7 linked regions of the Homo sapiens genome follow. The protein of the gene in region 4 purifies or fractionates together with the protein of the main gene of each other region. This does not show direct contact. Each region holds a gene or a part of one and is shown on either strand. Other genes may lie near its edges. The genes, in order: TXNRD2, CBS, OXCT1, OAT, NEK10, ALDH1B1 and ABHD10.

Region 1 (4,305 bases), on a different chromosome or scaffold from region 4:
GGGCAGATCACGAGGGCAGGAGATCGAGAACATCCTGGCTAACACGGTGAAACCCTGTCTCTACTAAAAAATACAAAAACAAAATTAGTTGGGCGTGGTGGCAGGTGCCTATAGTCCCAGTTACTCGGGAGGCTGAGGCGGGAGAACGGTGTGAACCCAGGAAGCGGAGCTTGCAGTGAGCCGAGATTGTGCCACTGTACTCCAGACTGGGTGACAGAGCGAGACTCTGTCTCAAAAAAAAAAAAAAAAAGCTAATGTCCACAAGGCACAGTGGCTCACGCCTATAATCTCAACACTTTGGGAGGCCGCAGCAGGCAGATTGCTTGAGCCCAGGAGTTTGAGACCAGCCTGGGCAATATAGCAAAACCCTGTCTCTACAAAAAATACAAAAATTAGCTGGGTGTGGTGGCATGCGCCTGTGGTCCCAGCTGCTCGGGAGGCTAAGGTGGGGGGATGGCTTGAGCTTAGCAGGTGGAGGATGCAGTGAGTCAAGATTGTGCCACTGCACTCCAGCCTAGGTGACAGAGCAAGACCCTGTCTCAAAAAAAAAAAAAAAAAAAGCCAGTGTGCCAGTGTGTAACTCCCACATCTGACCACGATGGAGCAGCAGGGCCCAGATTTACCCTCCCCCTGAAGCAACCCAAAACCCAGGTAAAATGCATGAAACAACGGGCTTTCAGGTACTCCATGTCAGGTAACAAAGGACCTGAGAGAGAGGAAACAAACATGGTGAGCCCTGGGGAGTCTCCAGGACCCAGCACTGCAGGCTGGGGAAGATGGGGAGAATCCAGCACAGGAGAGGGCTGAGAACTGGGGGAGACTGAGGCAGCCAGAGGTCATGCACAGAAGACAGTGAGGAGGGGGCTGCCCAGAGAATCTGAGAGATCTGATCGGCGCATGTGTCTTGGGAAACTACCTGAGACCAGACAGAACCACCTGGAAGGACTGGAGGGGACAGAGCCCACACAGGGCAGGGGACAGTGCCTGTTCCCAGAATCTGGACTGGGAAAAGCATATAATTCCTGGGGCGTTGGGTCATGCCCCAGTAGTTGAGAATCATTAGCCCTAGACTGGGCACTGCTCCATACCCACCTAACAAATCTTTTGCAGAAGACCCAAAAGGATCAAACTGACTCTTAATAACTGCATCCCAGAACAGAGCTCAATAATAGTATTTCTAGAAATACAAAAATGCCCAGAACCCAACAAGGTAAATTCAAGTGTCTGGCATTCAACCAAAAATTACCAGTCACACAAAGAAGCAGGAAAATACACCTATAAAGGGGACAAAAAAAAATCAGTCAATGGAGACTGACTTGGAACAGACACAGATGTCAGAATTAGCAGAAAAGATCAATAAAACAGGTATTCTAACTATTCCATACTTTTTTATTTTTATTTCCTTGCTTAGATGCCTCACTTGTGTGCCCTAACTCCACCTTATCACATATGATGAACTATCTGTTCATGTGTCTGTCTCGGTAACTAAACTGCAGAACTCCGTCAGTCAGGGGCTTTGGTCCTGGTTTGTCTTTGTTGTTCCGGGTCCTGGCCCAGAGCTTGGACCACATTAAGTATTCAAATGGTTTGTTGAAGAAATTAACATGTTAAAAACAAACCTTTCTCACAGAACACTGTTCCTCCTTCAGTGTTCAAGATCCCAGACCTTTGGGTCCCTTTTTACCTACTTACTCCCTACCAAAAGTTCTCTCTCCTTCGACTCCAGGGTGGTTTTATAAACCTCTTATGCATCTCAACTTGCACTATATGGTAGCTACTTTTCACAGCTACAGACTTTTGGTGTGGGAAGGATCTTTTTTTCTCTTTTTTTGAGATGGAGTCTAGCTCTGTCACCCAGGCTGGAGTGCAGTGGCGTGATCTTGGCTCACTGCAACCTCCACCTCCTGGGTTCAAGCGATTCTCCTGCCTAAGCCTCCTGAATAGCTGGGATTACAGGTGCGCACCACCATGCCCGGCCAATTTTTTTGTATTTTTAGTAGAGATGGGGTTTCACCATGTTGGTCAGGCTGGTCTTAAACTCCTGATCTCATGATCCGCCCACCTCGGCCTCCCAAAGTGCTGGGATTACAGGCGTGAGCCACCATGCCCGGCCAGGAAGGATATTATATGCAATTTGTTCTACCTGCTTACCTGAAGTTTGAGTCTCCTTCATAACATCCTCACCAAGTGTTCACCTATGCCTGGTGCCTTTGTCTGGGAATGTATTGCCTTCCCAAGTGGCCATTTAATTTTGGGAACTCTCCCAATATAAAATTTCTCCTCATATTAATTGGAAATGTTTTCCTATAACTCTTAACTATCTCCACCCCCTCTCCCACATGCCCACTCTTTAAAATTTAAAACTATTTTTTTCCTTTCCCTTAAGTTTTCTCTTTTTGAATTCCTTCAATGATGACTTTCAAGGATAGATTCCTTCAACTAGGATAGTTTAGGTCACTTCTCTCCAAATGACCCACCTTCTCCAAACCTCTGTTCAGAAGGGGCTGCGATGCTCCCAGTAGGAAGTCTGAGGCCCTAAAAATGGGCAGCTCTCGACCTGTCCTGGCTCTGGGCTGTATCAGCCTTGAACTCGGTCACATCAAACATCTGACTTATAGAAGTTAACAAGCAGACTGGGCGTGGTAACTGACGCCTGTAATCCCAGCATTTTGGGAGGCCGAGGCGGGCAGATCACCTGAGGTCAGGAGTTCGAGACCAGCCTGACCAACTGTAGTTTCACGACCAGTAGTGAAAGCTCGTCTCTACTAAAAATACAAAATTAGCCAGGTGTGGTGGTGGGCGCCTGTAATCCCAGCTACTCGGGAGGCTGAGGCAGAAGAACTGCTTGAACCCGGGAGGCAGAGGTTGCAGTGAGCCGAGATGGCACCACTGCACTCAAGCCTGGGCAACAAGAGTGAAACTATGTCTCAAAAAAAAAAGTTAACACAGCATTCACTGAAACCCCTGAGGCTTTTTTTTTTTTTTTTTTTTTTCAAATCTTGTGGACTTCTGACTGGTACAACTGCAGCTGCCTTGCCTGGTAACTTGGGTACCTGGTTTGTGGGTCCAACTGCAGGCCATTCAGGTAGACTTGATTTTTTTTTTAATTTAAAAAAAGGCTTTTTTTTCTTTTTTCTTTTAAAGAGACAGAGTCTCACTTTGTTGCCCAGGCACTGGTGTGCAGCGGTGCGATCACAGCTTGCTTACGCCTTGACCTCCTGGGCTCAAGCAATCCTCCCAGCTCAGCCTCCCAAAGTGCTGGGACCACAGGCACACACCAACGCCCAGCCCTCAGTGGTTTTGATGGATTAGTGTATCCCCAGACCCTCCGAAGGGGAGGACAGTGCCTTATCTCTCTCTTTCTTCCACCAAGAAGGCCACAACCGGCCTTTTAACCTTGATCCAAGCGAGGCTGAAAAGCAAACAGGGCGTTCATCTTCATCCTTTATAGCCACATAGCCACATCTCCCGCCCACAAGCAGATTCCACCACCCCCCGCACCCTAAGGCCCAGCCTCATCAGCTGCAGCATCTTCACCTGGCCTTTCACACTGAAGCAGAAGGGGTGACGGTTTACTTTCAGCTGCATGGTCTCCATCATACCCGTAGACCCAACAGCTGAGCTTCCCCTCTGTCCCTTCTCCTCAGCTCACTGCCCCACTAGCCATTCTGCATGTTCAAACAGTGCAGGAGCAACATGGAAGATATAACCAAAGGCTCAAGCTGGATTGTAGAGATGAAAACTACAATACAGGAGATGAAAAATACACTGGACGGGATTAATGGCAGGTCAGATGTTGCAGAATCTTTTATTGGTGGGTTTGAAAACATAGGAATAGAAACTATCCAAAATGAAACGCAGAGTAAGAAATGTTTCTAATGAAAAGAGCATCAGTAGGTTGTGGGGAAGCTTCATGCAGCCTAATATACATGGAATTAAAAGTCCCCACATGTGAGGGGAAGAAGGAGGGACTCAAGGCCAATGAAAAGAGAAAATCCTAAAAGCAACCAAGACACACTACAGAGACACTAAGATAAAAATAGTAGCAGATTTCTCACTGGAAACAATGCAAGCCAGAAGTCAGAGGGGCAAAATTTTTAAAGTACTGAAAAAAAAAAAAAAAGCGGGGGGCCAGGCATGGTGGCTCACGCCTGTAATCCCAGCACTTTGGGAGGCCAAGGGGGGCGGATCACAAGGTCAGGAGATCGAGACCATCCTGGCTAACACGGCGAAGCCCCGTTTCTACTAAAATCACAAAAAATTAGACGGGCATGGTGGCATGCGCCTGTAGTCCCAGCTACTCAG
Region 2 (3,878 bases), on a different chromosome or scaffold from region 4:
GCGTGGTGGGGGGGCCTGCAGGTAGGTATCACCCACCCCTCAGAATGGCTCTCAGGCTCAGATTCACAGCCTCCCCATGGCAAATGGAGGCCTTCCAGGGTCCTGGACCCACCCCCAAGCTTGGGTAGGAGGGATCCCCCTCTTAATCTCACATTTACTTGTGTTTGAACATCTCAGAAAAAAAAAAAGATGCAAATTCCAATGTCAGGGTCCCCAAATCAAGTCTTCCTGGAGCATGTCCACGCTTGTCACCACCGTCTGTGGCTGCTTTCAAGCACGTCAGGGCTGCGTGCTCATAACAGAGACGGCACGGCCCCCAAGACCTAAAATACCACCAGCTGGCCCTTGTCGGAAAGTCCCCTGGCTGGCCCTAGTCCATTGACTCTGGGCCGAGCTGCCAGGGCCACAGAAGCCTGCGGCACTCAGGGCTCCCAGGGCTCCCTTCTCCAACAGTTGCTGTGCCTCCGTTTCCCCAAAATGCAAGGAGCTGATCTCATCTGTGTTCCCTATCTTTTCCTGGGGCTCTAAGTGGGCCACCCCAAGGGACCTCTGCCTACAAAGAGAGGAGTGACAGCCGTGGCGGAGTTGGGACGGGCTCCGAGGGCTCTTCCTCACCCGCACCTTGCTCACCCCTCTGTGCCTCATGACAGCTGGTGTAGGGTCCTGTGGAGACGCAGGACCAAGAGGATGTGTGGGGAGCGGGGAGAGAGAGGGAACGAGATCTGTGTTAAGGAACTGGATCATGAGATCACGGAGGCTGACAAACCCTGAGATCTGCAGGGTGAGGCGGCAGGCCGGAGACTGGAGAGCCAGCAGTTCAAGCCCCAAGGCAGGAAATTCCACCTTTGGTTCTATTCAGGCCTTCAACTGCTTGGGTGAGGCCCTCCACAGTAGCACACGTTATCTGCCTCTTGACTCTTGTGCTAATCCGGAATCCCCTCACACATGCCCAGAACGACGTGTGACCAATGCCTGGGCTCCCACGGCCCCGTTAATCTGTATTAAAATTAACCATCACAACAGCCCTGTCTGGGTATGTGGCATGGGAGCCTCGGCCAGCATTAACACCGGGTCTACGCTTGCCAGGAGAAAGCAGGAGGGGTGAAGACAGAATCAGGCCAGAGATGGAAGCTGTGTGCTGCCCATGGTGGCAAGGGGTTTTTGTCTGTTTTTAGAGACAGGGTCTTGCTCTGTTGCCGACTGGAGTGCAGTAGTGCCATCATAGCTCGCTGCAGCCTCGACCTGCTGTGCTCAACTGATCCTTCTGCCTCAGTCTCCCAAGTAGCTGGGACCACAAGCGTGTGCCACCATGCTCGACTAATTTATTTTTAAAAATATTCTGTAGAGACAGGGTCTCAATATGTTGCCCAGGCTGGTCCCAGACTTCCGGGCTTAAATGATCCTCCCACCTTGGCCTCCCACAGCGCTGGGATCACAGGTGTGAGCCACTGTGCCCGGCCCTGTAAGCGGGTTTGAATTTCATGCCCACACCGGCTCTGAAGTCATGAGTGCCTCAGGAGCTCAGCCGGTGGGCCAGGGAAGGGTGTGTCCTGACCTGCGGTGGGTGGAGCCTGGCCTGGGGCCCAGGGGACTCACGTGGTGGGTAGAACCTGGCCTGGGGGCTCATGGGGCTCATGTCAGAAGAACACTGGCTTGGCCAGGCACAGTGGCTCACGCCTGTAATCCCAGCACTTTGGGAGCCGAGGCAAGTGGATCACTTGAGGTCAGGAGTTCAAGGCCAGCCTGGCCAACATGGCAAAACCCCATCTCTACTAAAAATACAAAAATTAGCTGGGTGTGGTGATGTGCACCTGAAGTCCCAGATACTCGGGAGTCTGAGGCACGAGAATCACTTGAACCCAGGAGGTGGAGGTTGCAGTGAGCCAAGACTGCACCACTGCACTCCAGCCTAGGGGACAGAGTGAGGCCCTGTCTCAGAAAAAAAAAAAGGAACACAGCCTTCGCCGCTGGGCTCCAGCCACCCTGGGCCCCCATGGTGCACAGGTGCCCCAGGCCCTCAGGAGCCTCCTGCCCCGCAGCAGCCCACCCAGCCTCCCACGGCACCTGCAAACCCACTGCCTCGTTCTCCCCTCAGACCACAGCACCGGGAAGTCCAGTCAGCGGCAGATGGTGTTCGGGGTGGTCACCGCCATTGACTTGCTGAACTTCGTGGCCGCCCAGGAGCGGGACCAGAAGTGAAGTCCGGAGCGCTGGGCGGTGCGGAGCGGGCCCGCCACCCTTGCCCACTTCTCCTTCGCTTTCCTGAGCCCTAAACACACGCGTGATTGGTAACTGCCTGGCCTGGCACCGTTATCCCTGCACACGGCACAGAGCATCCGTCTCCCCTCGTTAACACATGGCTTCCTAAATGGCCCTGTTTACGGCCTATGAGATGAAATATGTGATTTTCTCTAATGTAACTTCCTCTTAGGATGTTTCACCAAGGAAATATTGAGAGAGAAGTCGGCCAGGTAGGATGAACACAGGCAATGACTGCGCAGAGTGGATTAAAGGCAAAAGAGAGAAGAGTCCAGGAAGGGGCGGGGAGAAGCCTGGGTGGCTCAGCATCCTCCACGGGCTGCGCCGTCTGCTCGGGGCTGAGCTGGCGGGAGCAGTTTGCGTGTTTGGGTTTTTTAATTGAGATGAAATTCAAATAACCTAAAAATCAATCACTTGAAAGTGAACAATCAGCGGCATTTAGTACATCCAGAAAGTTGTGTAGGCACCACCTCTGTCACGTTCTGGAACATTCTGTCATCACCCCGTGAAGCAATCATTTCCCCTCCCGTCTTCCTCCTCCCCTGGCAACTGCTGATCGACTTTGTGTCTCTGTTGTCTAAAATAGGTTTTCCCTGTTCTGGACATTTCATATAAATGGAATCACACAATTGTGGCCTCGTGTCTAACTTATTTCACTTTGCATGGTATTTTCAGGCATGTCAGAGCACGTGTACTTGGTTTCTTTTTGTGGCCGAATAATAAGCCATTGTGTGGATAGACCACATTTTGGTTCCTCATTTATCGGTGATGGACACCTGGTTGTTTCTGCTTTTCAGCCCTTGTGAGTAACCTGCTGTGCACCTTCATGGCCGAGTATGTCTGGACACCTCTTTTCACTTTTCTTGGGTGTGTACCCAGGAGTGGCATTGCTGGTTAATGTGGTAACTCCATGTTTAATTTTTTTTTTTTTTTTTTTTTGAGATGGAGTCTTGCTCTGTTGCCAGGCTGGAGTACAATGGCACAATCTCGGCTCACTGCAACCTCCACCTCCTGGGTTCAAGCGATTCTCCTGCCTCAGCCTCCCGAGTAGCCAGGATTACAAGTGTGCACCACTGTGCCTGGCTAATTTTTGTATTTTTGTAGAGACAGGGTTTTACCATGTTGGCCAGGCTGGTCTTGAACTCCTGACCTCAGGTGATCCACCTGCCTCAGCCTCCCAAAGTGCTGGGATGACAGGCGTGAGCCACTGCGCCCGGCGTCCATGTTTATTTTTTGAGGAACCATCAAGCTGTGTTCCATACTGGTCACACCGATTTCCATTCTCACCAACAGTGCCCGAGGGTTCCAGTTTCTCCAGGTCCTTATCAACACTTGCTATTTTCTTGTTTTAAATTATTATAGCCATGCTAGTGTGTATGAAGAGGTGTCTCATTATGGTTTTGATTTGCCTTTCTGTAATCATTGGTGATGTTGAGTGACCATCTTTTCATATGCCTGTTGGTTATTTTTTGGGAGAATCCATCTCCTGTTTTTAAATTGGGTTGTCTTTTTGTTGAGTTGTAGGAGCTCTTTATATGTTCAGGATACTAAGCCCTTATCATAAGACTTGCAAATATTTTCTCCCATTCTGTAGGTTATCTTTTTACTTTTTTTTTTTT
Region 3 (3,236 bases), on a different chromosome or scaffold from region 4:
CTGGATCTATTTTGAGGTTTTGGAGACTTGGGGTTTGTACTGCGTCTTAAGTGAAGTCTCAGAGGCATCAGTCTCGGAGATCAGTGATCCATCTGACAGGGGGCTTGGTTATTGGGATCCTTTGTTTTCCTCTGCTCCTCTTCCACCTGCTCCTTGTTGCCAGCCTTGTTCATCCTTAATTTAGGAGCTAATACAAGAAGGTTGAGAACTACAAAATACCCAAAATGTAAACAGAACTGTTCTGTCTCAATGTTTCAGGATGGAAAATCATATGGAAACTCCAGGGAATGTCCATGGCAAGGCTGCTTGTTGCCTACATGATTGAAATTTGGAAATTAAAAGGAGAGAGATTTATATCATGCAGTTTTTCATAATTTGATTTTTTTTTCCTCTTTTACCAGGTTTCACCAAAACTCATGCCAATGCAGCAGATCGCAAATTGAAATATGGATATTTGTACCAGGCTGCGTGTTTTTCATTTTAAACACACAAGATTTAATTGAAAGGACATCAATAATCATAATTGTGTATTTAACAGGTGGTTTTTTATTAGTTTTCTTGTGTTTCAGACTTTATGCAGCCATATAAACTGTTCTCTAGGCATGCTGTGACATTTTAATAAAAAGCAAAAGGAGCATTTATAATTATCTCATTTGTTAAGGCTGAGAAGGTTGTTTTTATAATAGGTAATTATATTGAATGCATTTTCACTGAATATGGTATGTATGCTAAATTATATGAACCTTTCCCCAAGAAGGGCCCTAGAAATTGATGTGGCTTTCCTCTTAAATATTAATTATTAGTCCTGAAAGAAAGATAACATATGTGATTTTTGTGGTTAGGAGAGTTGCTGTCATGATTGTTTTTTCTTCAGCCTCCTCTGACTTTTCTTTTGGGGCTTCAGATTTTATGATTACATCTTGTCCCCCTAGAACATCCCCCTTCCTCCCATACTGCTTTTAAACAGATGCCCAAGAAGGCAAGCAGGAATGCCTCTTGTGGGGGAGGGCAGGGAGAAATAACTAGTTCAAACCAACTATCTATCTATGCTTTGCAAAGACTAAGGCGTATTATAGGAAGAGGGCTAGAAACCTAACTGATTCTTCTCAGTTTTCTCATTTTAAAACAGCCCAGTATTCCTTTGTATCCTCAAGGGTCCTTGAGAATACTTCTGTTATTGAGACCCTGTGGGCTACTTGTACTGTACCTCCTCTCAAGCCAAGAAGGGCTGTGGGATAATTTACCATGAATCCTTAGTAGCAATGACAGCAGAGTTAAAAAATAAAAGGTGTTTTACTTTCAGGCTCTTGTTTTGGTTCAGAGGAGATTTTAAATATTGAATGACACTTCTACAGAACAACGGTTTTTCTTCTGCCAAGGCTACTTCCTTTAACGAAGTGCCTTTAATTCAGCCTTATCCAACTAGGGAAAATAATGTTGGACAAGTCTAGGATTTGAAGAGTCAGTGAACTTTTAGTGTCAGGGAATAAACATGGTGGGTAGATTAGGTTTGAAAAAAACTTCCTTAGAGGTATTTATTCTCAATACCTGACAGGGGCCCATGGGAATGACTTCAGAAGCATCCCGGATAATAGATGGGTAAAAAGTCTAGGCACCCTGAAGAACAGGTGAGACAGCTGGCCTCTGGACAGAGGTAGGCATAGTACAGTACGATATATCATTCCTCTGGTCCTAAATATACAAACTTATTCATGTTTTTAGGTGATGATGGTCATTGAAACTCACTTCTTTTCAGGTGTAGCTACAATTGTGTAATGTACAATATTAGAGAAAGGACAGGCTTTTTATGAGTAACACACACCATATATAAAACAGCCTTTCTGGCTGACCACATGGTTAAATGCATACCTTCCCAGTACTGGGGGGAAAAAATGACCCTTCTTAGAATGTGCAAGTTCCATGAGAGTAATATATTGATATGATTTTGAAAAGAATTGTTGATAGTTACATCTTCAAACTTATCATTCCAGTATGCATCTTTAAGATAATGTGATTCTAAGTAGATGACTTTATATTCTTGATTGAAGAGTGCTATACATGTTAAGAAATGCATTAAGGAATACAATAAATATTCTAAAGTGATGTAGATCAGTGTGACTGTCCTTTATTTCACTTGGGAATGGCATTGCTAAATGTGGGAATAATGCAACAGATTGTCAGGGTAGCTAACAATAAAGTCAGCACACATCACCACTTCTTTTTTTTTTCCTTTTTTTTAAATTATACTTTAAGTTCTAGGGTACATGTGCACAATGTGCAAGTTTGTTACATATGTATACATGTGCCATGTTGGTGTGCCAACATGCTAATGGTGTGCCATTAACTCGTCATTTACATTAGGTATATCTTCTAATGCTATCCCTCCCCCCTTCCCCCACCCCATGACAGGCCCCGGTGTGTGATGTTCCCCTTCCTGTGTCCAAGGGTTCTCATTGTTCAGTTCCCACCTATGAGTGAGAACGTGCGGTGTTTGGTTGTTTGTCCTTGCAATAGTTTGCTGAGAATGACGGTTTCCAGCTTCATCCATGTCCCTACAAAGGACATAAACTCATCCTTTTTTATGGCTGCATAGTATTCCATGGTGTATATGTGCCACATTTTCTTGATCCAGTCTATCATTGATGGACATTTGGGTTGGTTCCAAGTCTTTGCTATTGTGAATAGTGCCACAATAAACATACGCACATCACCACTTCTAGTCAAGTTGTTGCTTTTCTTTTTATCTTACCAGAGAAAAGATATTGTTCTTCTAGAAAGATCAAGTGAACATTGAGTTTCACAACTTGCTCCTTGTCAGAGGCTGCTATGTTTACAAAAATCATTTATCCAAGGCTTCATGTGTGAATCCTTGTTCACTTTTTGTGTAACATTTTCCTTTACTGTACACATTAGTTGCCTGGTGCTGTGAGTTTATTTCCATTTTGAAGTGGCTCTAGTGGTAGTCTGCTCAGCATCTGTTTTGCTGCTCCTCTGGTAACAAAGGGGTGGGCACGTCCCCAGGATTTGCTACTTCCGGTAGCTGTCCTTGGTCGACAGTGGTTATACCCAGAGTTGTGCATATGACCAAGGATGTACCAGTTTATTTCTCCAACATTTAAAAAACAGATGAGAAGTCAACTTTCTTACTCCTCTCGGGCTATGAAGCCATAAGAATGTGAATCTGACACCAATACCCCACATGTCTGCTACACACATGCACATACCTAGCTGAGCTC
Region 4 (4,305 bases):
TTACCTGTATTCATAGGAAGAACTTTGTGGTAGTTGAAAAGTTTAGTAATATACTCCTCATATTCACCAAGTACGTTATTATAGAAAGCTCTAGATGTTAAGGTCAATTTGTCCACTTGACTCTTCAGAGCATTCACAATCTTGGGGTGACAATGCCCTTGGTTGACAGCACTGTAAGAACTCAGGAAGTCAAAATATTTTCTGCCTTCTACATCCCATAAGTAAATACCTAAAATACATAAGAAAGGAAAATAATTTTAGACAATTACTATACGGCATAAAGTCCAAAAATTAAGAGTGCTAGCAAGCCCTCTGAATGCCTATATATGAACCTCTATTTAATACATATTTGTAGTTAAAGCTTGTTTTAGCTCAGGCATAATAAACTTTGGTTTGTAAGGAATTACTAAGAATTGTATTTTATCTGCCCAGCTTCAAAACACACATTTAACAAAAATAACACAAAAAGGTTATAAACTCTGGAGTAAAACCTTTACCTAATTCTAAGATTTAGGATCCAAAATTAGAATTTAAAAGCAGAAGTTAGGCAGGGAGCCGTGGCTCACGCCTGTAATCCTAGCACTTTGGGAGACCAAGGCAGGGATTGCTTGAGCCCAGGAGTTCCAGATCAGCCTGGACAACACGGCAAAATCCCTGACGCTACAGAAAAATGCTGGGCATGGTAGTGCGCGCGTATGGTCCCGTTACAGAGGCTGAGGTGGGAGGATTGCTTGAGCCTGGGAGGTAGAGGATGCAGTGAGTTGAGATTGTGCCACTGCACTCCAGCCTGGGCACCAGAGCAAAATCCTGCCTATAAAAAAAAAAAATAAAATAAATAAAATTTAAAAATAAAAAAGCAGAAGTTACACATAACAGACAAAAATCATGAGAAGTAGACTGTAATAACCCTTAGGATGGAAAAAAAATATTTGTAAATCATGTGTCTGATAAGGATCTAATATCCAGAATTCTTACAACTCAATTTCAAAAGGACAAACAACCCAATTTAAAAAATGGGGAAAGACTTGAATAGCTATTTCTTCAAAGAAGATATACAAATGGCAAGAAACACATGAAAAGATGTTCAACATCACTAATCATTAGGAAAATGCAAGTTAAAACCACAATGAGATACCATCTCATACTCCCTGGGATGGTTATAATTAAAAAAACAACTTTTGACAAGGATCTGAAGAAATTGGCACTCTCATACATTGCTAGTGGGAAAGTAAAAACAAGGTTGCCATGTCATGTAATATGAAACAGATTTTCAATAGTTCAAAAGAAGATATGTCTACAGTACTGGTACCAAATAAAATACAAGCAAATGACCAAAATGTGTGATACTCTTATATTGTCATTTTCTGGTACAAAGCTAAGTAATAAACTTTGGTTTTATTTGGTTAAGGCTGTTATTTATTCCAAATTGTAGATTAAATCACCATTTGGCAACTACCACCGTAATCATTTATTCAGGCAAGAATCATTAGTGGATGCTGAAATTGTGAGTAAAAGTTCATGAGTAACTGGATATTTACAGAGTTTTACACTCTGTCCCCACAAGATACTTAATACAAAGGGAAAGAAGACCAAGACAACCAAGGATTGAGGAACTGTTCTGGGTTAAAGAAGACTAAACATGACAACTGAATGCAACTCATCGGAGGTTTTTCTTTTGTTATAAAAGAGAACAAATGACATCTGGATTAGGTCTCTAGACTAATGGTGCTGTACCAGTGTTAAGTTCTTGATTTTTACAATTACTCTATGGTTATAAAAGAGAAAGTCAGCTGGGCACAGTAGCTCACACCTGCAATCCCAGCACTGTGGGAGGCTGAGTGGTAGGATCACTTGAGACCAGGAGTTCAAGATCACCCTGGGCAACATAGCAAAATCTAATCTCTACAAAAAATAAGCCAGGCATGGTAAGGCACACCTGTAGTCCCAGCTACTTGGGAAGCTGAGGTGGGAAAATCACCTGAAGCCGGGAGTTCCAGGCTGCAGTGAGCCATGATCACACCACTGAACTCCAGCCTGGGCAACAGAATGAGACCCTATCTCAAAAAGTCATTGCGTTTTTGGAAAGACACACTAAGTATTTATGGGTAAAGAGATGTCATGTGGCGGGGCGCGGTGGCTCACGCCTGTAATCCAGCACTTTGGGAGGCTGAGGTGGGTGGATCACCTGAGGTCAGGAGTTCGAGACCAGCCCGGCCAACATGATGAAACCCTGTCTCTACTAAAAATACAAAAATTAGCTGGACGTGGTGGCGTGGGCCTGTAGTCCCAGCTCCTCGGGAGGCTGAGGCAAGAGAATCACTTGAAACCGAGAGGTAGAGGTTGCAGTGAGCCGAGATCCCACCATTGCACTCCAGCCTGGGTGACAAAGCGACATTCCGTCTCAAAAAAAAAAAAAAAAAAAAAAAAAGAAGAAGAGATGTCATGTCTGCAACTTCCTCTCAAAACAGTTCAGAAAACAATGTAGAATATGCAGGCGGCGGGGGGAGAAGAGAAGGGAGTGAACACACTAAGACCAAAGCAGCAAAAAGTTAGCACTTGGAAAATCTGGGAGAAGTATAAAAGGAAAATGTCAGTACTATTTGTTACAACTTTTCTTAAGTCTAAAACTATGCCAAAATAAAAGTTAAAAGAAAAAAATGACAGCAATATGATAGTACTTTCCTTATTTCTCTTGCATTCCCTCTTGGTAAGGTCTACATGACAAAGACAATGGTTCCTCTTTGAAGCCTCCATAGCACCTAACACAGCAGCACTAGACACTCAATAAATGAATTAACTGGCCAGGCGTGGTGGCTCACACCTGTAATCCCAGCACTTTGGGAGGCCAAGGTGGGAGGATCACAAAGTCAGGAGTCTGAGACCAGCCTGGCCAACATGGTGAAACCCCATCTCTACTAAAAATACAAAAATTAGCTGGGTGTGGTGGCGCACGCCTGTAGTCCCAGCTACTCAGGAGGCTGAGGCAGAAGAATCGCTTGAACCTGGGAGGCAGAGGTTGCAGTGAGCTGGGATTGTGCCACTGTACTCCAGCCTGGGTGACAGAGTGAGACTCCGTCTCAAAAAAAAAAAAAAAAAAAGAAGAAGAAGAATTAACCATGTCTGCAATATACACATTAAACACATCTAGAAAAATGTATATTGTGAAAATATGGAAGCAATTTTTTTTTATAAAAGGTTTCAAGAAAAGGGAAAAGACGGATTAATTTGAAACGTACCTTTTCCTCTCTCCAGGGCTACAGGTAAAGGATGGTAGTTGTGTGCACCATACTTATATTCCCTTTCAAAAATGTCATCAGAGGTTGGAGGGCCTTGGACTGTTTTTTTAGTTGCAACAGATGTAGCAGAAGCCACTGAAGAATGAACTCCGCGACTAAGTACAGCAAACCTCTGCAAATGTGCTAGTTTGGAAAACATTGTGTCCTTCAAGTAGAAAAACCACAGATCTGTCCAAAGAAAAGAGAATGCATTAAGAGTGAGAATCCTTGGCTTATGCCTATAATCTCAGCACTTTGGGAGGCTGAGGTCAAAGGATCACGTGAGCCCAGGAGTTTGAGACCAGCCTGGGCAACAGAGCAAGACTCCATCACTAAAAAAAATTGAAAAATTAGCTGGGTGTAGTGGTATGCATCTGCAGTCCCAGCTACTCAGGAGACTGAGGTGGGAGGATTGCTTGAGCCCGGAAGTTGAGGCTGCAGTGAGCTGAGATTGTGCCACTGTACTCCAACCTGGGAGACAAAGAAAGGCCCAGTCTCAAGAAAAAAAAAATGGCCAGGCGTGATAGCTCACATCTGTAATTCCAGCACCTTGGGAGGCCAAGATGGGAGGATCGCTTGAGCCGAGGAGTTAAAGACCAGCCTAGGCAACATAGTCTCTATAAAAGAAAAAAAAAGAGTGAGAATCTTGAGTCAGGTGTGGTGGTTTGTGCCTGTAGCCCCCAGCTGCTCAGGAGGCTGAGGCGGGAGGATCACTTGAGCCCAAGAGTTTGAGGCCAGCCTGGGCAACAGAGTGATACCCTGTCAATCAGGCAATCAATCAACCAACCAATCAATAAGAGTAAGACTCTTTCCAGAGCTAATGCACTGTGTGTTGACTGAGTACCTGCTAAACACTAAGTATTTGTTAAGCACCTACCACAGTCCGATACCATCAGGCACAATGCTATGAGACAGCTACAACTGTAGGGCAGAGACCAGAGGCAGGGAGACCAAATCAGAGAAGACTGCCAGAGACTAGGCATGGGGCAGGAGACAGAGGAACTGTCCATCCCTCTGGGCTCAAGCAGTC
Region 5 (4,991 bases), on a different chromosome or scaffold from region 4:
AAGACTTATTCCCAAATCCAAGCCATACACCCTGTCCACAAGCTGATGATTACTATTCCCTCATCCTGCTTTACTTATTTCTCTCCTTGTATTGTGTTCCAAATAGAACACAATACAAATAAATAACATTTACATGCTCCTGAGGCATACTGACCACTGTTCTAAGAAATTTTTCCATATTAATTCATGTAATGTTCACAACCACCCCATTTTACAGATGAGGAAACTGAGGTGCAGAAAGATTAAGTTAACTTGCCAATCCCATATCTAGGATTTGGGGAGCTAGGATTACAACCCAAGCAGTCTGGCTCCAGAATCTGTGTTCTATGAACTCTGCTCTACTGCGCCCTGAGAACTGTCCTAAGAGAATAGTGCCTTTGTTTTGTTCACTGCTGAAGGCCCAGGTGTTCAATAAATATTTGTTGACTGTCTGGATGAACTTCCAGCTCCTCTCTGCCTATCCAAGTGCTCAACCCAGTTCACTTTGACTTCAGCCTCAAAGCTTGACTGGCTGTGACAGGCAGAGTAACATTCCAGGCCCTTCTTCCACCTCCTGAAGACTTTATTTGTTGCACTGTCTTTTGGCTCACCCTCACTGGGCATGGAGCCCCAAACCCATTAGATGGTCAATAAATACTCACTGAATGATTGAGACTCAGAGCTGTATCAGAGCTGTCGCCAAACACAAAAGTTTGTGATCAAGTACTATAACAACAGGATGGTGTCCTAGAAATTGCACTTGACTGAATCAAAAGATTGATTTTTACCTTTTGTAAACTCACCATGACAATTTCACAGCTCTAGACTTCAGTGTGTTCATTTTTTTTTTTTTTTTTTTTTGAGACGGAGTTTCACTCTTGTTGCCCAGGCTGTAGAGCAGTGGCGTGATCTTGGCTCACTGCAACCTCCGCCTCCCGGTTCAAGGGATTCTCCTGCTTCAGCCTCCCAAGTAGCGGGGATTACAGGTGTGCGCCACCATGCCCAGCTAATTTTGTATTTTTTGTAGAGATGGGGTTTCACCATGTGGGCCAGGCTGATCTTGAACTCCTGACCTCAGGTGATCCACCCACCTCATCGTCCCAAAGTGCTGGGATTCACGGCATGAGCCACCATGCCCAGCCCAGTGTGTTCATTTTTAAACGTGAAAGCTTACTATATATAAAGCACTATACCTTTGGTATGAATTATGTACATATAATCTTTAAAAGAATCCTATGAGCTAGGTGCTATTATACCCCCATTGTGCAGATAAAGAATCTGACTAGAGGCTAAGTAATTTGTTATGTGTTACACAATTAAAATGCTAGAGCTAGGATTCAAACCCATGTATGTATGACTCCAAAGCTTAGCTCTTGCACACCATGCTGTACTGTCTCTCTCTTTACCATTTTAAGCTTATGTCATATAATAACAGCTACCGTGATAATGATTATGGCTTGAACTATAAACTGTGAATTGAAGTAGTTTCCAATTACTAAGGGTCTTGAAATTAAAGTAAAACCTGTACCTTTTATAACATTTTTTCAATATTTACCTTTTATAAGCAAAAGCTTCATTGGCCATTTCTGACTTTTCTGGAAGAAATAAAGATACCATGGCAAACAGTAACTTCTCATTTTAGAGATTCAGTCAGTTAACAAGTATTTGTTGAACACCTGTTACGATGTCTTGCACTGGGCTAAATGCTGGATATATATAACAATAGTGACTGAGACAAAGATGGTCTCTGCCGTCACAGAGGCAGTCCAGAGAAAGAAACAGTAATCAAGCAACATACAGAAAATGATTGGGGAGTGAGAGCAGGAGTGTGGGGGTGCAAAAAGGAAAGTCCATTCCAGGCAGTGTGAGCAACAGGTGAGATAATTACACACAGGAGAGAATGTGACATATTCTGGGAACAATCAAGATGGAACTGCTGATAGAAGGCCTAACTAAAGATTGGATTAGGGTAATGGGGAATCATTGCAGGACTTTAAGTAGGGAAGGGAAATGCCCTTATGTGCGTTTTAAAAAGATCAGTTTAGCCGGGCACGGTGGCTCACGCCTGTAATTCCAGCACTTTGGGAGGCTGAGGCGGGTGGATCACCTGAGATCAGGAGTTCGAGACCAGCCTGACCAACATGGTGAAACCCCTTCTCTACTAAAAATACAAAAATTAGCCAGGCGTAGTGGCTCGCGCCTGTAATCCCAGCTCTCTGGAGGCTGAGGCATGAGAATTGGTTGAACCCGGAAGGCGGAGGCTGCAGTGAGCTGAGATCGCTCCACTGCACTCCAGCCTGGCAGCACAGCAAGACTCCTTCTAAAAAAGGAGTCTTTTTTAGAAGGACTCCATATATATATATATACACATATATATATATCAGTTCAACAATGGTGGGGAAAAAAGTGGATTGGATAGATAGGGCCAGACTAGAATCGGAGAAGCCAGATGGGTGTTGAATTTAACCAACCGATGGTGGAAATTGAGACAGTAAAAATAGAGATGGTAATGTGGGAATTGATTCAACACCTATTAAGAAGGGATAGTCTTGATAATTGATAGAGATGCAGAGGAAGCAGCAGTAAGTGTCATGGATGTCGTCTAGAGTGTAGTTTTTGAAAGCTGAATGGATAGTGATGCCCAAAATAGGGAATCCAAGAGCAGCAGCAGACATGGGGAAGATGGCGTTCAGGGTTGCACATGTGTGGCGTTAACTTGGCAGCTGGATTTTGGGGTCTGACAGTTAGTAGAGCAGGCTAGGTTCCAGTTGGAGACTTTCTAATCATCGTCAGATAGATGGTGCCTGAGGCGAGGAAGTGGAAGGGCTCACCGAAGTAGGGCAGAAAAGCAGAGGGGCAAAGTCAAAGCAGCATCCTGTAAGGAGAAGGCAGAAAAGCGACGCTCATAGAGATGAAGAATGAACCTCCAGAGGCGTCGGAGCAGATTGGAAGAGACACATTCAGGCTCCATTTAACCAGAATAATTCCGTTATCAAAATGGAAGCGCCAAGAAGCATCGTTGATGGCGCTTTCCCACCATCCATCCGTCCAACACAAACCCACCTGCTTTGAAAAGACTGCCTCACGCAGTGACTCACTTACCCACCACAGCCGCATTCTCTACCTCTGCCTCTTGTCTAGTGAAGCTGGCTCCCGAGGCTTCGGGGCCGCTCCACAGGGACCTGAGGACGTCTCCCCGGAGACCCTGACTCAAGCTGCTCGCCGGCACAGCCGAGCACCGGCTCCCGCCTACTCACCGCGCGGGAGGGACGGTCCCTCCTTCAGGCCAATCTCCTTATCATTGTCCCTGCTGCTGTCACCTGCTGCTGCAGACCGGGGGTCCCGTCCAGTCTCAGCCCGTCCCGTCCTCCCCCCAGCCTATTCCCGGTCCCCTCAACCTCAGGGACACCGCGGCCAGCTGCACCGTTGGTTTTCCAATCAAATCCTCCTCCAGGCCACCAACCAGCGCTGGCCAGGCCAATGCCGACAATTCTTCCTCCGCCACCTGGGGCGCCTCAGCCAATCGGGAGCAGCCATGCTGCGCAGTGCAGAACGCCATAGCGACGGATGACGCCTGCCGGGGAATCGCCGTAGCAACCAGAGACGCGCTAGATCCACCACCAAGCTTGCAAGCAGAAGAGGCAGCAAGTGATGCTGAAGGCTGTGCTGCAGCCACTTCACCGGAACCTAGAGCTACCTGTGAACAGGTCTCCTACACGTTGAAGATTTTTCTGGATTTAGGGTGTCTAACCTTTGATGGGAAAGGGCAGCTTCATCTTGGAGTGTTTACTTTCAAGAATTGCTATGGGCTAAAAATCAATTCTCTTTAAAAGCAAAGATTTAATCTGATAAGGAATCAATGCAGCATGCTAAATACCTTTCATATGGCATGAAAACGTCTTCAGTTACTCAAGCCACAGGCAATGAGAATAAGGTGCCACAGCACCGTATTTTTCACAAAAAGAGTGACCTGGGATTCAAGAAACCTGTATAGTATAACTATCGCCAGTTCGTTTTGTGGCTTTGGGCAAGTCACTTCACCTTTTGTGAAAGTCTGGAGCTTCTTTAAAATTTCTGAACTGCATTAGATAACGCTTTAAAAATATACCTGACATTCTGTAACTTTAAATAAATGAAAAATGCCAATCTATTAAGTGCTTAATTTTGTGCCGGGCACGATTTCAAATTCTTTCCTTATTTCACTTAGTTATAAAATGGAGGCACAAGAAGTTTCCTAAGTAGTCCAGTATGGCAGAGCTAGTGATGGAGTCAGGGTAAAACCTACTTCGAGTCTGGTCTTAACCACGATGATGCTCCTTCGACGATTTCTTCGAGTACTGGGCCCTGTTCAACCTCATCTTGGTATCACTAAACGCTCGTGTGTGTGTCTGGTGGTTACATCTTCCCAAACTGGATTTTAAATGAATACAGTGAACCCTAACGTTTTTCTGGTGTGGATAGTAAGTAGGCCCATTGGATTAACAATACTTAAGCTTGGGTAATTGAAAGCATTTTTTAAAATGAAGACGGTCCTATTTTGGAAATGCAGAAAGGCGAGATGAAAGCCAAACTCTGGTGAGTATAGCAGAACTAATTAAACTTCAGAGATCTAAAACAATCAGGATTAATGTTACCAATAAAACAAAACAAGGTGACGGGGCAGGAAGACCGATGCTGAGTAGAAAAAGTATTCTGTACATACATTCTAAATGTTAAGCAGTCGGCCTGGCTTGGTGGCTCACACCTGTAATCCTAGCACTTTGGGAGGCCGAGGCAGGAGGACCACTTGAGGTTAGGAGTTCGAGACCAGCCTGGCCATCATGGCCAAACCCTGTTTCTACTAAAAACAGAAAAATCAGCCGGGCATGGTGGCACATGCTAGTCCCTACTACTCAGGAGGCTGAGGCACAAGAATTACTTGAACCCAGGAAGCAGAGGTGCAGTGAGCCAAGATCATGCCACTGCACTCCAGCCTGAGAGACACAGCAAGACTCTATCTCAAAAAATAAACA
Region 6 (4,265 bases), on a different chromosome or scaffold from region 4:
GCTGCTGTGCAACAGAGGTGCCAACAGCCTCCCAGAGAAATCCGTAGAAGGTGCACTATGGGGGAGTGTCAGGGTCACCTTAGCTGTAGACAAATGGTGTAGAAAGGAGGTCCTAGGAAGGGAGGTGAGGGAACCAAACAGACTCTGAACCCTCAAGCAGCAGTTTCCAGCCAAACCCAAGTTATGATAATAAACAAAATCATCATGTTGCCTAGGTAAGACAATAGGATGTTTAAGAGTTGACTGGGGCCAGGCATGGTGGCTCATGCCTGTAATTCCAGCACTTTGGGAGGCCGTGGCAGGAGGGTTGCTTGAGACCAGGAGTTTGAGACAAGCCTGGGAAACATGGTGAAACCTCATCTCTACAAAAAATACCAAAAAAAAAAAAAAAATTAGCCAGGCATGGTGGTGAGTGCCTGTAGTCCCAGCTACTTGGGAGGCTCAGGTGGGAGGATTGCTTGAGCCTGGGAAGCAGAGATGAGTGGGGTGTGCATTTACAGGAATGGGGGGACTTGAACGTAAGGTGGCTTGTAAGCAGCATGGTCTAGAAAGATGGACCGAGAGAGGGAGGCTCAGCATTCTGCTTCTGTATTGTGGCCTGGCTGGCTTGGATTTGCCTTCACTCCCATCAGTTGGGGAATGAATGTAGCAAGACTAACAATAAACATTATGAACTCTGAGGTTTGAAACTCTGGAAATCCCCAGCATGTCAAGGTGGCCCCCATGCTAGGCTTGGCTTGAAGGGTGGGTATGGTTTGGAAGGGGTGGGGGGCTGTGGAAACGAGTCCAACAAGATGGGCCCATTCTGAGCAGGAACCAGAGTTTTTCTCTACGGGTCTTACAGTTGCACTTTGTCACCCATCCAAGAGAAAACAAAAACAGAAACATTGGGGAGGGGACTTTTGCACCTGACTGGGGGTTGACTAGACCACCTGGGTCCCTTCCATCCCCCACACTCTATAAAATGTTCAGCAGCAGGACAATATGGAGACAAAATGGATTTGCTCACAGAATGTATACGTTTATTTTTTAACGGAGTTAATTCATGGCCGGGTGTTGTGGCTCCCACCTGTAATCCCAGCACTTTGGGAGGCTGAGGCGGGTGGATCACCTGAGGTCAGGAGTTCAAGATCAGCCTGGCCAAAATGGTGAAACCTCATCTCTACTAAAAATACAAAAATTAGCCAGGTGTGATGGCATGTACCTATAATCCCAGCTACTCAGGAGGCTGAGACAGGAGAATCGCTTGAATCTGGGAGGCGGAGGTTGCAGTGAGACGAGATCACACCACTGCACTCCAGCCTGGGCGACAGAGTGAGACTCCGTGTCAAAAAAAAAAAAAAAAAAGAAAAAAAGAAAGAAATTAATTCATATACCATAATTAAACAATTCCATAGTTTTTAGTATTTTTACCAAATCATGCAACCATTACTATTGTTCAACTCCAGAACATTTTCAAAACCTCCCAAAAACAAATCCCATGCCCACTAACAATTACTCCTCTATCCCCTGGCAACCACTAATCTATGTTCCATCTCCATGGATTTGCCTAGTATGTATATTTCATATAAATGGAATCATACAGTCTGTAGCCTTGTACATCTCTCTGGCTTGTTTCACTGAGAAGGATGTTTTCAGGGTTCACTGATGTCACAGCATGTGTCAGTACTTCATTCCTTTTTATGGCTGAGTAATCCAAGGAATATTCCATGGAAACATTTTATTAATCCACTCATCAGTTGACGGACATTTGGGATGTTTGGGCTTACTTTACAGGTGTAATCATGTAAGCATATTCTTTGCCTACTCCTTCCCACAAATTAAGGAAAATCAGTAGCAAAATGAAGGGCAAGCAACTAAAACAGCCAGCAACTGGCACACAGACAAGGAAAAGCACCTCTGGTTTTTAGGTTAAGCCAATGAAGAGTGGGGCCGAGATTTAGTATCCACCTAGTTCAAAACCCCTAACACTTTCCAAGCTTGTGTTCTGAGTTGAGTCGATCCACTAAACCATCAAGCGCACCCATGGGAAAGTCCTTGGATCAGCAGGAAGAGCTACAAATTACAGATCACTGGTTTTTAATCTGTCCTCCAGAGACTCCTAAGATTTCATGGAAGCAACTCATGGGCCACCAAGGGGGCTGTGGTTGGGGGTTAGATAGGTAGAACTCTGAGCCTGGTCCCCATCTCTGATTTAAATAGAACAGCCTTGATTGAATTGCTTTATTTGTGGGGTTTCTTCTAAGAGTTAATTTGGAACAAAGAAAGGGTGTTCTTGGCTTTAAAACAGCTTGGCAAGCATTCGTCAAGGTGGTTGTGGAATTGCTGGACTGTGACTGGGCCTCCCTGACAGCTGCTCTTACGAGTTCTTCTGAGGAACCTTGATGGTGACCGTCTTTACCTCTGTGTAGGCCTTAAGCCCATCCTCACCCAGCTCCCTCCCGTTTCCAGATTCCTTAAACCCTCCAAATGGCGTGTGGCAGGTGACGATGTTGTAGGTGTTTACCCACACGGTCCCGGCCTGGAGTGCCTGGGTGAAGTACATGGCCTTGTCCAGATCCCGGGTGAACACAGCCGCAGCCAGGCCATACCTGGTGTTGTTGGCCCTCTCAACCACCTCCTCAATCTTCTTGAACTTGAACAGGGGCTGCACAGGCCCAAAGATCTCCTCTTTGGCAATTCTCATGTCATCCTGCACGCCACCAAAGACAGTAGGCTTGATGAAGAAACCACGCTCCCCGAAACGCTCTCCGCCACAGAGGAGTTTTGCGCCCTCCTTCTGGCCAAGCTGGATGTAGCCTAGGACTCGTTCAAACTGCTCCTTGTCCACCTGAGGCCCCTGCTGGGTGTCCAGCTCAAAGGGGTTCCCCACTTTCCTCTGCTTTGCTTTCTCCACGGTTCTCTCGAGAAACTCATTGTAGATGGATTCTTCCACGAAGGTCCGGGAGCCAGCACAGCAGCACTGGCCCATGTTGAAGAACAGGGCTTCGTGGCACTGCTCCACGGCATGCTCCATGTCAGCATCGGCCAGCACGATGCTGGGGCTCTTACCACCCAGCTCCAGGGTGACTCTCTTGAGGTTGGAATCGCCAGCTGCTTTCTGGATCAGGTGGCCCACCTCGGTGGAACCGGTGAAGGCAACTTTGTCAACATCCACGTGCTGGGCGATGGCCGCACCTGCTGTTGGGCCATACCCCGTGATGATGTTCACCACCCCAGGGGGAAAGCCTGCCTCCTTGATGAGGGAGGCCAAATACAGGGCAGAGAGGGGGGTCTGCTCTGCCACCTTCATAACCACAGTGTTGCCTGTGGCGAGTGCCGGGGCAAGTTTCCAACCCTGCATGACCAAGGGGAAGTTCCACGGGATGATCTGGCCACAGACACCAACGGGCTCATGCCGGGTGAAGCAGAAATGCTGGCCATCCATGGGGATGGTCTTGCCATGCCACTTGTCAGCCCAGCCAGCAAAGTACCGATACACCTTGATGACCTCATCCAAGTCCAAGGCGTAAGACTCTTGGAAAGGCTTCCCATTGTCCAAGGTCTCGAGTGAGGCCAAGTAGACTCGATCCCGCTCCACTAGGTCTGCCAGGCGGTTCAGCAGCCGGCCCCGCTCAGAGGCATCCATCCGGCGCCATGGGGACCCCAGGCGGAAGGCTTCCCGGGCTGCTTTCACGGCCCGATCCACATCAGCCCGGTCACCTTCAGCCACGTGCCCAATGACCTCCCCGGTGGTAGGGTTGACCGTCGGGAAGGTCTTCTTGCTGACTGCATCTTGCCATTCATTGTTGATGAACAGCTGGTTGTAGGGGATGTCTGGGTTCAGAATGGGGCTTGGGAGGGCTGCTGCCGAGGAGTAGCGGGCGGTCCTGCCCTGGAGGCTAAGCAGCCGGGGTGCCAGGAAGCGCAGCATGCTGACACTCTGGAGAGGGACAAAAGAAACCAGGGTGAACAGGTGGGAGAAGGCAGGTGGCGGTACCCAAGGGCCCACCAGCTCAAACATTTCAAGATTCCAGCATAAAGGACTGTCACCTCTAAAAACACAGACTGTAAGAGCTGTGAGGGCCCTGATGAACTCTCTGGGCCAACTCCATCACGTCCCGCCTATCCTCAGCTCACTCCCTCACCTCTGCTGGGTCTCAAAAGCCACTGTCTCAGCAAGGCCTTCCCTGACCACCCTTTAAAAAATTGCAACCCTTCCCACCCCAACACTCTCTATCCCCGCTACCCTGCTTTACTCCTTCTCTATCTCACATCCCAAATAC
Region 7 (4,305 bases), on a different chromosome or scaffold from region 4:
CTTCAGCAGATAGAACTTAGTCCCACTGGTTATTAGCTGAAGTGGAGGCTTTGCTAATTAAGGCGACACTGAATTAATAATAGTTTCATTTTAAGCATCCCTGGCCCCCAACTAGCTCTGCTACCTGCCACTGAATTGAATGAAAATGGTCCATCTGAAGAACAAAGTTAACTTTATAAAATGTTGTATGTCTCAAGTCCTCAAGAACAAAAAGTTCAGAAACAGCAAAGACATTACCCAAAGAAAATGTACAATATATTAAGTTCTACATCAACAAAACTTATCAAGGCAATGTGGTTCAGAAGCTTACATTCCCAACAGCTGTGCATCATGTCTGAGGCCCTCTAGTGTCCAAAGAAGGTGATAATGATTAGAGTCAGTTAAAGAGGATGGTCAAGTTCTTAGAGAAGAAATGAGAAATGCTGGGCTTACTATTCCCAGGGTTATAAAAGATAGTAAAAATCTCCACATCTGCTCCGTTGACATTGTTAGGGCTAGCTGTTTATGTGGAGAAGAGATAGCGGTCTTAGTGTTGGTGCTCTTTCCTTATACATGCTTTTAAGTTAACCAAGGGCTCAACATGCTTCTGTTAACAACTGCTTATCTGAGTAAGTATTAGCAAAAAATGCCTTGATTTGCAGATTATAAATCTTCTCAATTAGAAAGTATCTACCCTATGCTCACTCTGACTGATGTGAACACACACACACGCAGAGAAATGTACATGGCCAGGCACAGTGGCTTGTGTCTCTAATCTCAGCACTTTGGGGGTCCAAGGCAGGAGAATCTCTTGAGCCTAGGAGTTCAAGACCGGCCTGGGCAACATGGCGAGACCCCATCGCTACAAAAAATACAAAAATCAGCCAGGCATAGTGGTGTGCACTTGTGGTCCCAGCTACTCAGGAGGCTGAGGTGGGAGGATCTCTTGAGTCTGAGGGGTCAAGGCTGCAGTAAGCAATGACTGCACCACTGCACTCCAGCCTGGGCAACAGAGATACCCTAAAAACCCCCCCAAATAAAAACAAAACCAAAACAAATGTACACAGGTTTTGTCATTTACCAATAATTACAAAATACAATAAACCCCCAACCCCCAAAAATCAACTCCTTTTCAATCTGCTATGTCTTTGAGATAATTTCCTACCCAAGAAGCGCTGTATTATTGAGTTAAGAGGATGGAGCAAGGAGTCCACATTTAGATCCACAAAATGTCAAAGGTGGGAAAAACATGAAGACATTGAGCAACTATGTATGAGAAACCACCAAGAAAGTGAACAAAATTCAGAAACAGGAGATAAGTTCAAGGAAGACCAGCTTTGTAATTTCAGCTCTGATAGGAAATAATATGAGAAACCTGAATACACACACAATGCTATTTCTTAAGGAGCTTAAAACAACGTGAACTAAGAATGAACTTAGTTAATATATGGCACAGGTATTAATGCAGAACTTGAGGCAAATCAATGACATTCTACTATTCAACACTGCATACGTTTTTTCTTCTTTTTTTTTAAATTTCTGAACCTCCTTCTCCTCTTCCCCCATTCTCTAAAGCATTGTTCTCAAACTTTACAAGAGGTTTGTTAAAACACAGACTGCTGGGCCATACCCCCAGTTTCTGATTCAGGGTAAAACCCAAGAATTTGGGTTTCTAACAAGTTCTCAGGTGCTGCTGCTGCTGCTAGCCTAGGGACCATATTTTTTAACTACTGCTCTGTTTTCTTTAATTTCTGTGTCTCTGTCACTCTGACTGACAATATCTGTCTGGAGAGTTCTGTTGGGAGGAACTGAGGCTGCTTTTAGGCTAAAACAAAGACAGTCAGCTCTCCATATTCATGGTTTCTGCATCCATGGATTCAACTAACTTTGTATCAAAAATATCTGGAAAAAAAAGGTTACCTCTGTATTGAACGTGTACAGTCTTTTTTTCTTGTCCGTATTCCCTAAACGATACAGTATAGCAACAATTTACATAGCGCTTACATTGTACTAGGTATTTTAAGTAATCTGGCAATGATTTAGATTATACAAGATTATGTGCAAATACTACACCATTTTTTTTCTCAGAGACTTGACCATCTGTGGATTTTGGTATCCATGGGAGGTCTTGGAAGCAATCCCCTTCAGATACCAAGGGATGACTGCAGTTTCAGTTCATTAGCCCACTCTAACATAGTCATAAGAACAGGCACTACTCCCCATATGCCACAAAGTAAGAGGACCAAAAGGAGATCACGATGTATGATTCAAATAAGTAAATGTAATAATAAAGAAAATGTGGCTAAAAAAAAAGAAACTTCAAAGTGTGATATTGTTAATGTGTCTCAAATATTTGGCAGAATGATTTGAAGAGACTATGAAGAAACGAAATCTTAAACAAGATGACAAATAGTTAAAGATAGAAAAGAGGTTGTGTACAGAAAGGCAGCTAAGACAAAAGTTGGGCCAGCACAGTAAGTCAAAGGAATTATTGTTTTCTGTCCCCCCTTCCCTCAAAGAAAGAGGGAGCAGAAGAAGTATAAGCGGTAAATATATTGAGGTGGCAAAAGTGACTTTTGACTTACCTCAACAGGAAGCTGATTAAACTTTGTCACTAAGGTATCTGCAGCTGTAGCTACACCAATAAGAGCCACGACCTTCTCTGGTCGTGCAATTGCAGCATGAAGCATAAGCCACCCTCCAAGGCTAGATCCAACAAGAATCTAAAAATAAAATAAAATAAAACATTAGGTCTTTAAGATAGAACAGGTTATAAACATAAAACAAAATATGTACAATAAAAAATTAGAAAGTAAAAATAGAATCATTTTAAATCAAATATCAAAATGGATTAAACATTTAAATTAAATAAAAACATTTTCATATCTAAAGAAACAGCTTAGGCCGGGTGTGGTGGCTCACGCCTGTAATCCCAGCACTTTGGGAGGCCCAGGCGGGCGGATCACGAGGTCAGGAGATCGAGACCATCCTGGCCAACACGGTGAAACCCCATCTCTACTAAAAATACGAACAATTAGCCGGGCGTGGTGGCGGGTGCCTGTAGTCCCAGCTACCTGGGAGGCTGAGGCAGGAGGATGCCGTGAACCCGGGAGGCAGAGCTTGCAGTGAGCCAAGATTGCGCCACTGCACTCCAGGCTGGGTGACAGCACGAGACTCCATCTCAAAAAACAAAACAAAACAAAACAAACAGCTTAAATACGAGGTTACAGTAATTATCATCATACTTAACAAAACAGTCACCTGTGGCCCATCAGCTAAGTCATCAATTATAGAAAGAACATCTTTTCTCCATTTCCCCAGTGTGCTTTCCTCTGAGTTACCATCTGAACTTCCAACTCCTGAGTAATCAAACCTGGAAAAAGGGGAAAAAAATCTATATCTAAATATCTATATATCTGCTTCTTTAATTTTTAAGAAAGATAGCACCTTCCTCATTACTATAATGCTTATAGTGAAACATCACAATCAATATGTATTTTAGCAAATTCTATTGGCTTATTAACTTTCAAATACCTCCTGTGTCCAATCACTTTCTCACCTCCTCCACTGCTACCAGCCTGTTGCTAGTCACACTGTCTCTCAACCTAACTGAATGCAATAGTCTCCTAAAAAGTCTCCTGTTTGCATTTTCACACTCATTGTCTTTCCCTATATAGTAGAGTGATCCTTTTAAAACAAAACCATGTCTTGCAAACCCTCCAAAGGCTTTCTATAATCTTTAAATCCAGAGCCCTTACCATACTTTGGTGCCTGATCACCTCTCTGATCTCATTTCTCATTGTTTTCTCTCTCTCCCTCCCTCCCTCCCAACTGTATCTTCGCTTTGCTTCTTGAAGCTCCCATCTCATCAGCTTTTCTCTCCACATGGCATACTCTCCTCCAGATAGCCATTTAGATTGCTCCCACACTTCATTCAGGCCTTTGGCTCAAATATTACATCCTCAGAAAAGCCTCCCATGACCATTCAATTATTAAAACTGTGCTGCTTTCATCATTCTCTAATTCTTTACTCTGCTTCATTTTCTTCATAGCACTTATTACTACTTGAGATATATTTGATTATTTATGGTCCATCTCCCACATTAGAATGAAAGTTCCACATGGGCACAAGCTTTGTTTCAATGCGTTCCTAGTGCCTAGTTCAGTTCCTTGCGAGTGGTAGGTGCTTAGTGTATATTTAGTGAATTGATGGAAGGGAAGGAGACCAGAATAAAATTCATCATCACCAACCCATCCCTTTCTCCTTCCAACTTCCTAGTTATCTAGGCTCAGTTATCTGTCTGATCTATGAATTTTACCTCTCCT

The links.
Region 1: the proteins of OAT (region 4) and TXNRD2 fractionate together in Homo sapiens (co-fractionation; one large-scale study listed by BioGRID). This does not show direct contact.
Region 2: the proteins of OAT (region 4) and CBS fractionate together in Homo sapiens (co-fractionation; one large-scale study listed by BioGRID). This does not show direct contact.
Region 3: the proteins of OAT (region 4) and OXCT1 fractionate together in Homo sapiens (co-fractionation; one large-scale study listed by BioGRID). This does not show direct contact.
Region 5: the proteins of OAT (region 4) and NEK10 purify together in Homo sapiens (co-immunoprecipitation; one large-scale study listed by IntAct). This does not show direct contact.
Region 6: the proteins of OAT (region 4) and ALDH1B1 fractionate together in Homo sapiens (co-fractionation; one large-scale study listed by BioGRID). This does not show direct contact.
Region 7: the proteins of OAT (region 4) and ABHD10 fractionate together in Homo sapiens (co-fractionation; one large-scale study listed by BioGRID). This does not show direct contact.

Annotation. Positions count from the first base shown.
Region 1 is NC_000022.11:19,920,874-19,925,178, forward strand, and holds part of TXNRD2 (thioredoxin reductase 2, mitochondrial isoform 5 precursor), read right to left. Parts: intron 1-4,305. UniProt on the Homo sapiens protein: Involved in the control of reactive oxygen species levels and the regulation of mitochondrial redox homeostasis. Maintains thioredoxin in a reduced state. May play a role in redox-regulated cell signaling.
Region 2 is NC_000021.9:43,052,201-43,056,078, reverse strand, and holds the end of CBS (cystathionine beta-synthase), read left to right. Parts: coding exon of another isoform or gene 1-21; intron 22-2,095; coding exon 2,096-2,199; 3' UTR 2,200-2,888; downstream 2,889-3,878. UniProt on the Homo sapiens protein: Hydro-lyase catalyzing the first step of the transsulfuration pathway, where the hydroxyl group of L-serine is displaced by L-homocysteine in a beta-replacement reaction to form L-cystathionine, the precursor of L-cysteine.
Region 3 is NC_000005.10:41,728,936-41,732,171, reverse strand, and holds the end of OXCT1 (succinyl-CoA:3-ketoacid coenzyme A transferase 1, mitochondrial isoform 3 precursor), read left to right. Parts: intron 1-401; coding exon 402-443; 3' UTR 444-2,107; downstream 2,108-3,236. UniProt on the Homo sapiens protein: Key enzyme for ketone body catabolism.
Region 4 is NC_000010.11:124,408,737-124,413,041, forward strand, and holds part of OAT (ornithine aminotransferase, mitochondrial isoform 1 precursor), read right to left. Parts: intron 3,465-4,305; 5' UTR 3,436-3,464; coding exon 3,237-3,435; intron 230-3,236; coding exon 5-229; intron 1-4. UniProt on the Homo sapiens protein: Catalyzes the reversible interconversion of L-ornithine and 2-oxoglutarate to L-glutamate semialdehyde and L-glutamate.
Region 5 is NC_000003.12:27,365,989-27,370,979, forward strand, and holds the start of NEK10 (serine/threonine-protein kinase Nek10), read right to left. Parts: upstream 3,396-4,991; 5' UTR 3,237-3,395; intron 3,231-3,236; exon of another isoform or gene 3,043-3,230; intron 1,575-3,042; exon of another isoform or gene 1,535-1,574; intron 1-1,534. UniProt on the Homo sapiens protein: Plays a role in the cellular response to UV irradiation. Mediates G2/M cell cycle arrest, MEK autoactivation and ERK1/2-signaling pathway activation in response to UV irradiation.
Region 6 is NC_000009.12:38,395,397-38,399,661, reverse strand, and holds the end of ALDH1B1 (aldehyde dehydrogenase X, mitochondrial precursor), read right to left. Parts: intron 3,923-4,265; coding exon of another isoform or gene 3,914-3,922; coding exon 2,360-3,913; 3' UTR 1,001-2,359; downstream 1-1,000. UniProt on the Homo sapiens protein: ALDHs play a major role in the detoxification of alcohol-derived acetaldehyde. They are involved in the metabolism of corticosteroids, biogenic amines, neurotransmitters, and lipid peroxidation.
Region 7 is NC_000003.12:111,985,311-111,989,615, reverse strand, and holds part of ABHD10 (palmitoyl-protein thioesterase ABHD10, mitochondrial isoform 1 precursor), read right to left. Parts: intron 3,353-4,305; coding exon 3,241-3,352; intron 2,703-3,240; coding exon 2,565-2,702; intron 1-2,564. UniProt on the Homo sapiens protein: Acts as an acyl-protein thioesterase that hydrolyzes fatty acids from acylated residues in proteins.